Linked DNA regions of Homo sapiens. The protein of the gene in region 1 purifies or fractionates together with the protein of each later gene. This does not show direct contact. Each region holds a gene or a part of one and is shown in the gene's direction. Other genes may lie near its edges.

The links.
Region 2: the proteins of COA4 (region 1) and RIMS1 purify together in Homo sapiens (co-immunoprecipitation; one large-scale study listed by IntAct). This does not show direct contact.
Region 3: the proteins of COA4 (region 1) and COX11 purify together in Homo sapiens (affinity purification with mass spectrometry; one large-scale study listed by BioGRID and IntAct). This does not show direct contact.
Region 4: the proteins of COA4 (region 1) and MSRB2 fractionate together in Homo sapiens (co-fractionation; one large-scale study listed by BioGRID). This does not show direct contact.

What each region holds. Positions count from the first base shown.
Region 1 is NC_000011.10:73,873,669-73,878,045, reverse strand, and holds the start of COA4 (cytochrome c oxidase assembly factor 4 homolog, mitochondrial), read left to right. Parts: upstream 1-1,199; 5' UTR 1,200-1,289; intron 1,290-1,304; exon of another isoform or gene 1,305-1,347; intron 1,348-1,470; exon of another isoform or gene 1,471-1,567; intron 1,568-3,570; exon of another isoform or gene 3,571-3,625; intron 3,626-4,301; exon of another isoform or gene 4,302-4,377. UniProt on the Homo sapiens protein: Putative COX assembly factor.
Region 2 is NC_000006.12:72,180,050-72,183,985, forward strand, and holds part of RIMS1 (regulating synaptic membrane exocytosis protein 1), read left to right. Parts: intron 1-2,234; coding exon 2,235-3,100; intron 3,101-3,936. UniProt on the Homo sapiens protein: Rab effector involved in exocytosis. May act as scaffold protein that regulates neurotransmitter release at the active zone.
Region 3 is NC_000017.11:54,959,577-54,962,879, reverse strand, and holds the end of COX11 (cytochrome c oxidase assembly protein COX11, mitochondrial), read left to right. Parts: coding exon 1-147; 3' UTR 148-1,553; coding exon of another isoform or gene 1,554-1,615; 3' UTR 1,616-2,253; coding exon of another isoform or gene 2,254-2,314; 3' UTR 2,315-2,458; downstream 2,459-3,303. Other genes in the region: TOM1L1 (TOM1-like protein 1), read right to left, coding at 2,254-2,314. UniProt on the Homo sapiens protein: Exerts its effect at some terminal stage of cytochrome c oxidase synthesis, probably by being involved in the insertion of the copper B into subunit I.
Region 4 is NC_000010.11:23,093,879-23,098,566, forward strand, and holds the start of MSRB2 (methionine-R-sulfoxide reductase B2, mitochondrial precursor), read left to right. Parts: upstream 1-1,700; 5' UTR 1,701-1,730; coding exon 1,731-1,848; intron 1,849-4,688. UniProt on the Homo sapiens protein: Methionine-sulfoxide reductase that specifically reduces methionine (R)-sulfoxide back to methionine.

The sequences.
Region 1 (4,377 bases):
TGAAAAACCCTTATTAGTAGTAGCAGTTGCCAAATATAGCACTGCTATATTCATCCTGAAGCCTAGAGAAATAACTGGAATAGTATAAGATCAATAAATGTTAGATGAATGAATAGTTTGCTGTGTATTCCTAATTAAGACGTCAGCTTTTCTTCTTTTTTGAGATGAGTATCGCTCTGTCACCCAGGCTGGAGTGCAGTGGTGCAATCTCGGCTCACTGCAACCTCCACCTCCTGGGTTCAACCGATTCTCCTGCCTCAGCCTCCCGAGTAGCTGGGATTATAGGCGCCCACCACCAAGCCCGACTAATTTCTGTATTTTTAGTAGAGACGGAGTTTCACCATGTTGGTCAGGCTGGTCTCGAACTTCTGACCTCAACTGATCCACCAATCTCAGTTTTCCAAAGTGCTGGGATTACAGGCATGAGCCACTGCGCCTGGCCTGGATGTCAGCTTCTTGAAGAGCAGGAACCATCACTTATATTTAGAGTATACATCTGAGCTCCACCAAGCATCCAGTATGGGGCCTGGACACAGTATTAGTTTCCTTAATAGTATCGTCCAGTATGCCTAATATAGCATTAGGGGCCTAGGAGAATACAAAGGTTCCATCACATACACAAAGTGGTGGTGAGTACAGAGACTTCTGGAAGTAACTGACGACTAATCAATATTTGCTAAATGACTGCTTGGCCAAAAGCCTTCCTGCCTCCCAGTATCCCTGTCTTTCTCCAACTCACTGATACTAGTTCTGACGCGGGGATCACACAGCTCATGTGCTCCCTTGGCCTAGGGATAGCTTTTCAGAGAATGACCATACGGGTTTGATACTTCTTTTTCCGGACCCTGTTCCCTCCATATCCCTCGACAATTGACGAAGTAACCCCTATTGATATCCTGGACCAGGCATGGCTCTCCTTGACGCAAAGCAACATCCACTACCCGCCTCCTCTGACTCTGTTCTGGGCCTGGATTCACCTGAGGGCTTGCGCCCAGTCGCTCTGAATCCTCAAAGGCGCCGCCATCTCGACCCCGCCTCCACCAGCCCACCTCTTCCGCCCCTTCCCGGAAGTGAGTCCCCGAGAAGCGTGCGGCGAGGACAGAGGTGGGCTCAACACCAAGAGGCCACCAATGAAAACGTGACTTTTTCACATTCCCCGCCCCTTCCGTGTGCACGCTCCCCACGAGGGGCTGGTTCCTGAAAGGATGTACAGAGGATCCCCAACCGCCTGCGAAACCCAAGCCGCCGCGTAGGAGCGTGCGTTCGGGCCCTCTTCTCCCACCTGTTCGGTGAGCATCGCGTACCGCGTTCTTCAGGAGGCGTTGCGGGCACAACGGGGCTGCGATCAGCGGCCGCGCGCGCGCATGCGTCCTCAAAGTTCAAAGTCCTCGATACGCCTGAGGCGCCTCAGGCCTCGTGGCTGCCAGCATTTTTCTGCTTTAAGATCCTTTCCATGACTTCCTTGTTTAGGCCAGCCTCCACGATCCAGCTGCCAACCATCTAGCCTACCCTGATCTCTGAGCAGGGGTCGTCGTCATTTTACTCCAGAGGAGACTGAAGCCAAAAGGTGGTGAGAGGAGAGTACAGCAGCATTTACTGAGTCCTATAGTAGCCCAAGCGCTTTTCATTCGTTATATTAATCTTCATTCTAATTGTGCGAATTAAATATTATTAATGGGAAAACTAAAATGAAAAAGATTACATAGTAAGGCGTAGTGCTGGGATTTGAACACGGATCTCTTGGTTTAGGATCAAGGCACTTTCTATTCCACTGTTCTTTCTCTAAATTATTTGCTCCTGGCCCTATTTAAAGAGTTAACAGTGTATTTAGGAAGAGAAAACTATCATTTATTGAACTCTTTAGACATACCAGCCTCCTTACAAACCTTACCTTTTTTTTTTTCTTTTTTTTTTTTTTTGAGACAGGGTCTCCCGCTGTAACCCAGGCTGGAATGCAGTGGCGTGATCACGGCTCACAGTGTTGCCCAGGCTGGGCGCAAACCATCCTCCCGCCTCAGCCTCCCAGTGTTGGGATTACAGGCGTGAGCCATGGCACCCGGCTTCATCTCTGTGCTTCCAGAGAGGTTATTAAATGATGTGTCCAAGGGCACCAAATGAGGCAGTGACAAAGCTAGGTCCAAGTCTGTTTCAAAGCCCATTTTCTCCCTCTTGCTTAAGTTATACCGCCTCCAAGGCAAATGAGTTGTGTAAAGTGCCTAACTCCCTCTTGTGATTCCCCATTGCCCTCAGAATAAAAAGTCTTAAACTCCCTACTATGTCCTACAAAGCCTTGTGATGATCACTTACTTATATCGCCAGTTTAATATTGTCTTATTCTCACACTGTATTCTCCCATCACTGAACTTTTTTTTTTTTTTGCTCTCATGTGTCAGATTCTATCTCAACCACCTGCTCTTCCATTGACCAAAAATAGTTTTCCCATCTCTGGCTAACTTCTGTTCCATCTGTCAAGTTTCAGCTTGGAAATCACTTCCTCTAGGAAGCCTTCCCTGCCTATTCCTGCCCTTGTCTGGATTAGGCATCCCTCCACTGTGGTCCCAGTCTTTGCTATCTGTACACTGTGTAGTAAACTGCCCTGTTTCCTTGTCTAGGTTGTAAACTCCATGAAGCCAGGAACTTAACTGACTTAGACAGTCTTGAATCCTCAGCACTAGCATAGTGCCTGGTACATGATAGGTACTTAATCATTTGTTGAGTGAATGAGAGACACAGTTAAGGCAATAAGGAGTCCTAGTTGCTTTACAGCCCATCATGGTGAAATTTTTGCAAAGGCTGAAGTCATTTCTCTTCAAACCTTAAGTTCCTTCTGTATGCTGCTTTCTGCTGAGTGTTCTGATGCAGACGGGCAAGACAGTTTGGGCAAATAAATACACCTCACATTTTTGTATAGTTTACAAAGCCATCTCACCTTATAGACCCAGAGGCCAGGTTTCTGCATACTGTATGCTACAGCCACAGTGAACTCTTTCCATCCTTCCCATGTGTCAAAACCTACCCATATTTGGGCACTCTTTCACTTTGTTTGTTTGTTTGTTTTGGAGATGGAGTCTCACTCTGTCACCCAGGCTGGAGTGCAGTGGCACGATCTTTGGCTCACTACAACCTCCGCCCCTTGGGTTAAAGCGATTCTCCTGCCTGAGCCTCCCGAGTAGCTGGGATTACAGGTGCCTGCCATCACGCCCGCCTAATTTTTGTATTTTTAGTAGAGACGGGGTTTCATCATCCCGGCCAGGCTGGTCTTGAACTTCTGACCTTATGATCCATCTGCCTCGGGCTCCCAAATTGCTGGGATTACATGTGTGAGCCACTGCACCCAGCCTCTTTCACTTTTTAAACTTTGTTCTTCAGCATAGAATAAGGCTAGTAGGATAAAAGAAGAAAGGTTATTTATTTGAAACAGGGTCTCACTATGTCACCTAAGCTGGAGTACAGTGGCACCATCATAGCTCACTGCAGCCTTTGAACTCCTGGGCTCAAAGGATTCTCCCTCTTCAGCCTCTTGAGTACCTGGGACTACAAGTGTGTGCCACTATGCCCAGCTAATTTTTACATTTTTTTTCTTTTTTCTTTTTTTTTGAGATGGAGTTTTGCTCTTATTGCCCAGGCTGGAGTGCAATGGTGTGATCTCGGCTCTCCGCAACCTCCGCCTCCCGAGTTCAACCTCGGCTCTCCTGCTTCAGCCTCCTGAGTAGCTGGCATTACAGGCATATGCCACCACACCTTGCTAATTTTGTATTTTTAGTAGAGACGGGTTTCTCCATGTTGGTCAGGCTGATCTTGATCTCCCGACCTCAGGTGATCCGACTGCCTCAGTCTCCCAAAGTGCTGGGATTATAGGCATGAGCCACCGTATCCAGCCATTTTTAAATTTTTTTGTAGAGATGAGGTCTTGCTATTACCCCTGCTGGTCTCAAATTCCTGGGCTCAAGGGATCTTCCTGCCTCAGCCTCCCATAATGCTAGGATTACAGGTGTGAGCCATCGTACCTAGCTGAAAGTTTAGTTCTTTTTAGGTAGATCAGAGATAGCTTATCTAAAAAGATGACATTTCACCTAATTCATATTCCAATAGCAAAATCCACTGAGCTTATTGAATGTTATGTCAAGCATTCTCACAGTTTATCTCATTCAGTTCAAACCACTTTTCAGGCCTGCTCTCAGCCAGGCCTAGTGCTGGGGGCACAAAGGTAAATCAAGACGAACATCAGCCGGGCACAGTTGGCTCACACCTGTAATCCCAGCATTTTGGGTGGCTAAGGCAGGAGGATCACTTGAGCCCAGGAGTTTGAGACCATGCTGAGCAACATGGAAAAACCTTGTCTCTATTAAAGAATCAAAAAAATTAGCTGAGTGGTGA
Region 2 (3,936 bases), on another chromosome or scaffold:
GCCTGAGGGGCGTTGTCTATCTCTAGAATGTATTCCTTAGGAGACCTTTGTTGAAAGCATTTCTTTCATATCATGCACAGATGTAAACATGAACTAAGTCACCCAGCTGAGCTACCAACTTCCAATGATGAACTCAGAAAAGCTCTTAGATCATGTTTCACTTATAAACCTAGCCCTTTAATTAAAAGTGTGCTCTGAGAGGATGTGATGGGGGAATCTGACCTATCAGAAAGTATGTGGACACATCAGAGAAGCCTTCTTTAAGGGTATTTCTTTTATGCTGAGCTCTAAAGAGTGACTTTGAAATTAACCAGGAGAAGGGAAGGATGGGTGCTCCAGGTATCTGCACAGGCACATGGCCTGAAGGAACAAGCCCAACGTGAGGGCCTCCTAAAGGATAGCTGCTGGCTACAGTGCAAGTAGCAGAGGCAATGTGGAGGAGAAAAGGCTGGTGAGGTGGTGAAGGGACAGGTTACATTTTATAGCTTTTATTGTAGGTGAAAGGGAAGCCACTGAATATTTAAACAGGGACGAATATGATCAGATTATTTACTTTGATTGATTCATTCAAAAATGTATTCATGGGCAAACATGAAGCTATGCACTGGGAAAAAGTGTTGACAAAGAAGACAGAGCCCTTATCTTCATGAGGCTCATGATTTTGGGGCCAGGACTTTTGTTAGCACCTAGACTGGGCTTATTGTTTTTGTATGTGTAACCATTACTTGGAGAAAGGAGGCTCCAAGGAAAGCTTTTGAACCCCTTTTCAAGCAAAGCCCATACAGTAAAAGATCAAGGACTTCAAAGTTAAATAGGTCTGGATTCTAGTCCTGGCTCTGCCACAATAGGCAGTAAAAACTCACTTGCAGGGTTGTGGCAGGTATTAAAAGAGAACATGTGTTCCCAAGCTGGCACATAGTAGGCTTTCAGTGAATGTAGCTATTATTCAAGCCAGTAGTCATTGTGTATTTACTACAGATAAACACTGTGCCAGGAACCAGAGGGCATAAAGATGATTAGAACATACATGGTCCCTTTTCTGACAAATCCTAGGGAAGAGACCACACACTATTCTAGGGAAGACAGACACCTAGGTAATTAACAAGGATGCTAATTTGATCAAAGCTAGGCAATATGTATAGTATTTTGAGAGCCCTAGGAAAGAGGAAGTGACTTCTCAATTAAGCTTTGTAAGATACTCAGGAGTTGTAGGGGAGCTACACAGCGTATAAGAGGGCAGTACAAGAGAATGAGTGTTACTAAGCTATTTGGAGAAAGGATAGAAAGGACACCAGAGATATCTCAGGGAACGTAGAATTAATAGCATTTGGTGACAAATTGTTGTGGGAGAAGAAGAGACAAAAATACTGAAGCTGCAGTTTGGAACTGGTTGGAAGATGATATCTTTAAATAAGATAGAGAATTTGGAGCTGTAAAGTTTCTAAAGAGAAAAGAGTTCTGTTTTTGACATATAGTGAAAAACTATAAAAATTTCAAGAACAAGGGCTGAATAGATACTTTTTGTTCTGACTTTTTAGTTAAAATTTGAAGAAGATTGATAGGGACAAATAACTTTACTAATGATATAAATTCACAGGAAAGCAATGAGGAATTGGGAAGTACAGAAGCAGGAAGAGAGGTGGCCAGTGTAAAGAGCTGGGCAACTTCAGGGAGAAGCAAGATTGAAAGAGACACTGTTTATTTGTTTTAAATTACTGAAGAATTCTTGACCGTATTTTGTACTGTCAAGGAGTTAGAAACAGAAAATTAAAGGTAGAGATGAGAAAAAGTATAATTAGTAGAGCAAAGAATCAGAGACACTGGAGAACTCCTTCCATTTGCATGACACTCTACCCTTTCATAAAACATCTTCACAGATGGTGTCTCTAATCCTCACATGAACCTTGCAAGGTAAGTATTTTTCAGCATTTCAAGAAAAGTAAATTGATTCAATGTAAACTTCTAACAAGAGCAACTATGCTTCAATGAGCTGCTAAATGTAGTACAAGCATGACACTCTTATGAAAACTATATTTGGTAATAATTAATATGTGTTCCCATTAGATCCCTTACCTTGTAAAATTCCAACACCCTTACAGTTCCACCTTCAGATCCAAATCCCTATAACTAATTATTGTAACTGAAATGATTTAAGACTGGAATGAGAAGAAAACATGTTTTTTATGTCTAGTCTTTATAAATTGCTCTCCTTGACGTTCCTTTGTATATCATAGAAAGAAGACCCCAGGGCTTTCCGAGCAGAATGGCAAAGGAGCCCTGAAGAGCGAGCGGAAACGCGTGCCAAAGACCTCAGCGCAGCCCGTGGAGGGGGCCGTCGAAGAACGGGAGCGCAAAGAAAGGCGGGAAAGCCGAAGGCTTGAGAAAGGGCGATCACAGGATTACCCAGACACGCCGGAAAAACGGGATGAGGGCAAAGCGGCGGATGAGGAAAAGCAAAGAAAAGAGGAGGATTATCAGACCAGGTACCGCAGCGACCCGAACCTAGCTCGGTACCCGGTGAAACCGCCGCCTGAGGAGCAGCAGATGCGCATGCACGCCCGGGTGTCCCGCGCCAGGCACGAGCGGCGCCACAGCGACGTGGCGCTCCCGCGCACCGAGGCGGGCGCGGCGCTGCCGGAGGGCAAGGCCGGCAAACGCGCGCCGGCGGCAGCCAGGGCCTCGCCGCCGGACTCGCCGCGGGCTTACTCGGCTGAGAGAACTGCGGAGACCAGGGCGCCGGGCGCCAAGCAGCTAACGAACCACAGCCCGCCGGCGCCCAGACATGGGCCGGTTCCCGCAGAAGCCCCGGAGCTCAAAGCCCAGGAGCCCCTCAGGAAGCAGAGCCGCCTGGACCCCAGCTCGGCGGTCCTCATGCGGAAGGCCAAGCGCGAGAAGGTGGAGACCATGCTGCGGAACGACTCTTTGAGCTCAGACCAGTCCGAGTCGGTGCGGCCGTCCCCGCCCAAGCCGCACCGGTCCAAGAGAGGCGGCAAGAAGCGGCAGATGTCGGTGAGCAGCTCTGAGGAGGAGGGCGTGTCGACGCCCGAGTACACCAGCTGCGAGGACGTGGAGCTGGAGAGCGAGAGCGTCAGCGAGAAAGGTAAGGGGGCGGCGCCGGCCGTGCGGGGACTTCAGCCAAGTGAAGAGGCGTGGGCAGAGGTGCAGGTGCTAGGCTAGTTGCTGGGTTCAGCATTGAGGCTGGGAATGCTCACAGATAAGATAGCGTTACCGCCAGTGGAAGGTCTTATTTTTATTAATTTAATTTTATTGATTGATTTGTGGGATTTTAAAACACAACAAGCTCCAAACTTAGGCTACAAAAGTTCTTGGTGATTTTGCATTCTGTCATTCTGGTAAATTTGGTATGCAGTCTAATATTTTTAAGATATTATTTTAGAGTGGATTTATTATTCTGTGAAAAACAATTTGTTTGCTAGAAAATGAAAATTATGCCTTATAAAGGAAGTAGACATTAAAAAAAAACCACATCAGTTACGTAATATTACAGTTGCAAAGGTAGTTTTTTTTTTTTTCAAACTTCAAATTAACCTTTCTCACAATTTGTGAACAGATTACAGTTTATTCTTGGACAATACGGATTTGAACTGCATGGGTCCACTTATATATGGATGTTTTTTCAATAAATATACTGGATTTTTTTTTTGAGAATTGCAGCAATTTTAAAAACTTGTGGACGAACCGGGTAGCCTGGCAATATTTTAATAAAATAAGAAAAAGTTAGGTATGTCATGAATGCATACTATATATATAGATACTAGTCTGTTTTATCATTTGCTATCATAAAATGTACATGAATCTATTATAAAAAGTTAAAAATGATAAAACCTTAAACACACACTTATAGACTACGTGGCGCCATTTGCAGTGGGAAGAAATGTAAATATGTAAACATGCGGTATTAAATCATAGCTGCAT
Region 3 (3,303 bases), on another chromosome or scaffold:
GAGGAAGTAGATATGCCAGTGTTTTTCTACATTGATCCTGAATTTGCTGAAGATCCAAGAATGATTAAAGTTGATCTTATCACTCTTTCTTACACTTTTTTTGAAGCAAAGGAAGGGCACAAGTTGCCAGTTCCAGGATATAATTGAAGTCAGCAACTAAGTCTTCCTTCAAAGTTGTGATTTTTGGGAAAATCATATATCCTATCTTCTCAAAGGAGAAATATTGTACAATAATATGAAGGCTTATATTTTAAATAATTATTTTTTCTCAACTAATTTTTTTCACTTAAACTTGAGAGAACAAGTTCAGCTTTTATCATAAGAAACTCATATGCCTAGCTAGAATATATGACTGACTATTCAATACCATACTGAAGAGTTTGATACTATTAAAATAAGCCGCTTTGTTTTTTAAATATGCAGGCATGGGTTCAGCTTAATTCCATAATTCCCTTCCAGATTATTAACTCTTCATACTTACAGCAATGAATCTGACAATGTTTTTCAAAAATGTATGCTCAGGGTTATTTGTTTCAAGTCATAGGCCAGAACTTCTAACCATGTTTATTGTGTCTAAAAGAGTTGGTTGCTATTTTCCTTCATTATGAATAGTCAGTATTTTAAAAGCTCAAAGTAGAAGAGGAGTCACTAAGCCCTAACAGCTTGTCCAAAGATTTAAATTCTTATTTCAAATTTGATTTGTCCTTTAAGGTTTAGGGCTATTTTATATTCAGAGTTCTGAATAATTACTTTGAAACTGTAGTATCATAAAATTGAAATAAAATACATCTACTAGGCTGTTAGCCAAAGCATCACCATTACAAGTCCATGAATGTTAAAATGTACAGGTGGGATTGTGAAGATTTACTGACATCAAAAGTTCTTCTGGAAACAAACCTTTGTTAAAAAAAAAAAGTATTAAATTGTTTTAATAGTGATTTATTTGTCATCAAATGTACAACTTATTCTAAATATTTTCATTTTCTGTGTTCTAAATAGAAATATTAAGTTGCAGTAAAAAGAGAAAAAAAGGCTATTTAGCATTACAAAGAATCATATTTAAAGGCTGCCCAATGTAGAGTCTAGTGACCTGTTCAGGACACCTGAAATATAATTAAATGACAATTATCAAGGTTTTAACAATTTATAATTCTAAACCAGAGGATTATAAAGAAGTGCAAATTGACTTTTACATTCAACTTTAGTTAAATGAAGGCACTCAGTATTCTTCCTGAATAATACATTCAGTTTCTCACATTTTATGCTTTCATCTATTCAGAATTATTTCATAGTAAAATAATCTACTCTTATCACAGCTGTGTGACGATTTCTAAATGTAGGAAGGCCTGTGAAACATGACACTGCAGTTAAATTGGTTGGCCTAAGGACTAAGTAATTTTTCTTCTGCTGAAGTTTTAAGTGAGTATTTGTTCCAAACAAGTTCTGTTGAAATCTCACGCTGTTGTCAGGAATCAGTGTTATCCTGGAACTGTTATTCTATTTAATCTTCATTATAGCAGAAATGTGCCACCATGGCTTTGACATGTTGGTAGGTATTGTCTTCCAGGCTTCAAAGCTGCACAGAGTCTACGTTTTAGAGAGTTGGCACCTTTGATGTGGTAGTGAGCTGATCATCCACTTTCTTCTAAAATAAAGAGAAGAAAATGGCCAGTATTCATCCTGTCCTTCTCTTTCCCCATTCCTTGATAACTCTCTTGTCTTTACTGGGAAGCTGGAGAGTCACAGTCTAGTAGAAGAAAGGTAAGAATGTGCTTCTTCCATAGGGGAGGGTATAAGGGGAATAAATAAGTTTTGATAGTTCATTGGTGACCATTAAATAGTAAATACATGGGATTAGTAGTGCTGAAAATAGGAAAAATTCAGACCTATTTGGAGGACTAACGGTAAATGGGTCTACTGGTACCGGTTAACAAGTATTAACTGCATATGAAAAACAAATGCCTGATTTCAGTGCTACTCCTATTGCTCATCTATTTTGTTAGCATTAATATTTCTATACCATAAACTACTGTATTCCCAAGCCTTACTATTTACAGATGAGAAAATCACAAAGAATGACTCTCATTAGTGAACAATGGTTCAGCACAATTTGAATGATTCAGGGGAACTCATATTTCAAAGTGTCAGACTCAGATGGCCCTTAGAAAATTTAAATACTAAATATGTAAAGTGATAATTATACTGAAATTATATGGAATATGGAATTAAGTTGTATAAGTTGAAGTCTTTACCTCAGTCACCATCATTTTGAGCTCCTTTGTGCTGGTGAGCATCAATTTCTTCATAAATAGCTCTGAAACAAAGCCATCACAGCAAAAGGGTTATGTATCAATTTCAAAGTGCTATTTTGGTTTTTAACTGCCAGCACTGTAATTAAAAATTGAGCTGGTTTTGGAGTTCAGGCTACATATGAGTAAAAATAAGTCTCTGCCCTGAAGTGTGTATTCTAGTTTATTTAAATTCTAATGTTGCACTTCATTTTTTCTTTTTTTTTGAGACAGAGTCTCACTCTTTTGTCCAGGCTGGAGTGCAATGGTGCTTTCTTGGCTCACTGCAACCTCTGCCTCCCAGGTTCAAGTGATTCTCCTGCCTCAGCCCCACGAGTAGCTGGGATTACAGGGACACACAACCATGCCCAGCTAATTTTTTTGTATTTTAAGTAGAGACAGGGTTTCACCCTGTTGGCCAGGCTGGTTTCAAACTCCTGACCTCAGGTGATCCACCCGCCTCGGCCTCCCAAAGTGCTGGGATTACAGGTGTGAGCCACCACACCCGGCCTTATTGTTGCAATTCCTATGTCTCTTAAAAGTATGTATTTCATAGAACCAATTAATTTTTTCTTGTGATTGAAATGAGAAATATGACTCAAATTTGGACAGTTTATGTTTTGCTTAAAAAACTCCTCAGTTTCTTCTGGTTTCAAACTTTTTAAAAAAATATTAGGACAAGTGCAGTGGCTCACACCTATAATCCCAGCACTCTGGGAGGCTGAGGTGGGTGGATCGCTTGAGTCCAGGATTTCAAGACCAGTATGAACAACATGGCAAAATACCATCTCTACAAAAAACATAAAAATTATCATGTGTGGTGGTACACACCTGTAGTCCCAGGTACTCAGGAAGCTGAGGTCGGAGGATCACTGGAGCCTAGGAGGCGGAGATTGCAGTGAGCTGAGATCGTGCCACTGCACTCCAGCCTGGGCTACAGAGCAAGACTTTCGTCTCAAAAAAAAAAAAAAAAAATTAATCTTCCAGCTTATTTAAACTATGTGATTACAGTCCA
Region 4 (4,688 bases), on another chromosome or scaffold:
AGGCAGATTACCTGAGATCAGGAGTTCAAGACCAGACTGGCCAACATGGTGAAACCCCGTCTCTACTAAAAATACAAAAATTAGCCAGACGTGGTGGCACACGCCTGTAATCCCAGCTACTCAGGAGGCTGAGGCAGAAGAATTGCTTGAGCCTGGAAGATGGAAGTTGCAGTGAGCCAAGATCGTGCCACTGCACTCCAGCCTGGCCGACAGAGACTCTGTCTCAATCAATCAATCAATCAATCAATAAAAATGGTGCTGGAACAACTGGATATAGATATGCAAAAAACAAAACAGATAAACAAAACAAAACAAAAATTTTGGCCATATATAAAAATTCTAAATCGGTCAGAGACCTAAATGTAAAACCTAGAACTATAAAAATTTTAGAACAAAACATAGGAGAGAATCTTTGTGATCTTGGATTAGGCAAAGATTTCTTAAATATGATACCAAAAAAAGAACAATCCATTAACAAATTGATAAATTGGGCTTCATCAAAATTAAAAACTGCTCTTCCCAAGACAATATTAGGAGACAGAAAAGACAAACAAGAGACTGGGAAAAAAAATCTTTGTAAAGCATATGTTTGATAAAAGATTTGCATCCAAAATATATAAAGTGTTCTAAGCTCAATAATGAAACAACTCAACATTAAATGGGCAAAAGATCTGAACGGACACTTCACCAAGGAAAATACACTCGCTGCAAATACGCACATGAAAAGATGCTTAACATCATTAACGATTAGAGAATGCATAATAAAGCCACAATGAGCTACCACTACACAGAACCGGAACATCTACAGTTAAAATCTCTGGACTTTCAAGTGTTGGCAAGGATGAAGAACAACTGGAACTCGCATAGACTGCTAGTGGGAAGGTAAAGAAAAAAACCACTTGGGAAAACAGTATAGTAGTTTCTTAAATGGTTACACCTACCTTACGACCTGGGCATTCCACTTCCAGGTATTTACCCCAGAGAGGAAAAACCGTATATGTCTGTACAAAGATTTGCACAGGGATGTTCCTAGCAGCTGTAGTTCTAATCAGGAAAAATTGAAAGCAGGCTAAATCAAGTGCTGACTAAACACACGGTGGTATATCCATAAATGGAATACTGCTCAGGAAGCAATGAATGATTGTTCCATGCAAAAACACGCAGGCATGTCAAAGTAACTATGTTGAGTGAAAGAAGCCAGACAAAATCAAGTACATATGGGATGATTCCATTTATGGACGACTCTAGAAAATGCAAACTAAAACAGATCAGTGTTTGGGCTGCGGATGAGTGGAGTTGGGATAGGTGGAGGGGGGCAGGGCGAGGGAGGAGCAGGAGTGGGAGGAGCTGGGAGATGCAGAGATGGGTTGGGGAGGGTCTCATGGAAGGGAAGGGAGAGAGGAAGGGGGAGAGGAAGGGGGAGGAAAGGCAAGGGGAAAAGGAGAGGAAGAGGGAGGGGGAGAGAGAGGCAGAGTGGGAGGAAAGAGGGGCGGGGACCTGGGAGGGCCCAGGGCACATAGTGGGAGGAGCAGGTGGGAAGGAGGGAAGGAGGGAGGGGCAGGGGAGGGAGAAGAGGGGGAGGGAGACGAGGGGACTGGCGGTGTGGGCGGAGCGTGGGGAGGGAGGCCGACTAGCGCAGGCGGACGGGAGAGAATGGGGGAGGGGTGGGATGGGAGCAGGGGCAGAGACGGGCAGAGGGCAGAGGGCGGAGCGGCGCCGGAGCGGGCGTCATGGCGCGGCTCCTCTGGTTGCTCCGGGGCCTGACCCTCGGAACTGCGCCTCGGCGGGCGGTGCGGGGCCAAGCGGGCGGCGGCGGGCCCGGCACCGGGCCGGGACTGGGGGAGGCAGGTAGGACGCGGGTCCCGCAGGCCCCGCCGCCGCCTACGGCTTTCGGCTTCATTTCACCGGCTGCACCCGGGAGCCTAGGGCCGGTCCAGGCCGGGCGCTGCCCTCCTACTAAGCCCTCCTCGGCGCGCCCCTCCCCCCCCCCAGCCCGAGGATCTGGGACAGTGGATTGTAAACTTGGTGGCGGCAGGGTGGGGACTGACCCCTGTGAGAATCCGAGGAAATGAACAAATGATCCCCCTAAATGTGCGCATAATTTTTTTTTTCTTGGCTCGGGGAGTGGGGGCATAAGTGGGGCTCGGGGGCCTCTGACCCCTATCGGGGACTCCAGGCGAAGGCCCGGGGCCTGGGCTGTAGCAGCCCGGCCCGCGCGCCCCTGCGAAGGCCCCTAGTATTTTGCATTGCAGCCCTCTTCGTAGTTCCGCGGGCTTCCTTCCAGCATCTGAGAAGCAGGCAGTTCAGACTTGGGGTTCCTGTGAGTGTTTCCTGCCCTGCTGACTTCCCATAAATGTGTCTAAGAGCCAGGGAGACTGGGTTGATCATTTGTTCCTTCTTTAAGGTGACAGCCATTGTTAATGACTGAGACAGAGACCAGGGCGAGCCTGTGTGTGTGTGTCTCTCTCTCTCTCTGTGTGTGTGTGTGTGTGTGTTTCTGCTAAATACTTTTGGATCCTCTCTTGGATCTGGGTACCTGCACATTTCACCAAGCAGGAAGGAGTCACCTCGGGAGACCTGTGCCAGCTACCCCTGTATTTCAGTTCTATTTCAGGGTAACTTAGTGCCCCAGGGGATTGGCTTCCTGGGCGGTTGCCAGACTGACCCACTCTGAATCCAATTTTATATGTGTTCATTGAAGACATTCAGAGATACCCAACTGATGAAAATGTACCAACTCATTCTGAGCTCTTTTTAGCCCCTGAAGTTTTCGAAATGCAATATTGAAAGAATACGTAACTAAATAAAAGCGTTGGCGTTGTGGAATGTTAGCTCATCCAACTTGACTTCCAGCTATGGCCTTTCTAATCACTGGTGTCTCTAGTCAGTCTGATGACATTTGCTGTGAGCCTACTGTGTGCCAAGCATTGTATTGCTGAGAACCACAGGTGATAGAAACAGGTCACAGTTACCGACGAGCTCTCTATAACCCCTTGAAAAAGGATGGTGGTTTTAGCGGTAACTACTTCATGGCTGTAATTGCTGCTGTCAGAAGCAGCCTAATGAATTGCCCTGGGATCTGAAGTTCTCCAGCAACAATAAAATTTGGCCAGCCACCAGTAGGTAACAGGAGCTGTGTACCTTATCAGACACCCCTCCTGGGAATCTATTCGAAGGAAATAGTTCAAAAGAAGAACAAAGAGATATATGCAAAGATGCTTTAAGCACTAGTCTCTTACAAAATGGAAACTGGCTGTAACCCAAATCAGTTAAGAAATACTTACGTAAATCATGAAAATTCAATCCAACAAACTGTTAGGCAGCCATTAAAAATGATAAACGGAGTATTTCTGTGGTGAAGGGCTTGGGTATGAATAGATGCAGATTTTGAGTCTTGGCTCTCGGTTACTTCCTGGCTCTGTGTCTGAGCTCAGGCTGCTATTGCAAAACACCGTGGACTGGGTGGCTTCAACAACATTTTCTCACAGTTCTGGAGGCTGGGAAGTCCAAGATCAAGGTGGGAACAGATTTGGTTCCTGATGCAGACCTGCTTCCTGGCTTGCAGTTGACTGCCTTCTCACTCTGCCTTCAGGTGACTGTCTCAGGAAGGACCACTAATCCCTCAAGAGAGCCTCACCTTTATGATCTAATCTAAAACTAATAACCTCCCAAGCCCCACCTCCACATTCCATCTCATTGGGAGTTAGGGCTTTAGCATATGGGAGTGGGGAGAGGAGCAGGGAGAACATATAATATTCAGTTTGTAACAATGTCTTTGGACATGTTTCTTGAATTTGGAAAGTTTAAACTTCAGATTTTTTTTCCTTCTGTCAAATAAGGATAATGATAATGGTAGGGTTGTTGTAAAGAATAACTTTTTAATTAAATATTTTGTTACAATGCTTGACACTTAGGCACACAATAAATGTTAGTTATGATTACATAAATAAGTGGAAAGGACAAAAATGTAGCTACATTTAACTTACATCATGGGCTTCGGGAGTGTTGAGAGAGAGGGAGACATTGGGAGGGGGGAAATGAGAAGATATTGAAATGACAGTATTTTTTTCCAGTGCTGCAATTTCTCATATGCTTAGAGTGATTTTTTTTAATCCAGATTGACAAAGAGCAAACTGAAAAAGGAAAGTAAGAAATATTCTGGAGCAAAAAATCTGTTGCTTCAGGAAAATATTCTTTCTAGAGATGACTATGCTAGGAAACTGTCCTGGGCATAGGGTTAAAATAGTCCAGGCACTGGTGGGAGAGACTAGTTCTGCAGATCAGAATGGGCTGGGGATTCTTTTAATACCAGTTTCTAAAGAGTTCCATTAGATTCAACACATTATTTATCAAAATGGAGTGGGCTTATGTGTGACAATTGGCAGTATAGCAACTGTGGCCAGGAAGGTTAGCAAAACCCGAAGGAGGCACCCAGTAGGTGACCATAGGACCAAGAGTGGATTTCCTTAGGGATGAAAAAATCGAGGCCCACCCCGTAGAACTTCTGACCAACAAAATATATGGCCTGTGCAAATCACAGCACACAGAGAGAAGGGAACTCCAAGGAATTTGAGTTTATTAAGGCATAATTCAAAGTAAAGCTGTGTAGTTATCTCATGCAATAGCAGCAACCGATAAATGTTTTCATAGTGAAGATAGCAAGAGAATGTAGAGGGAATCTGGAAAAT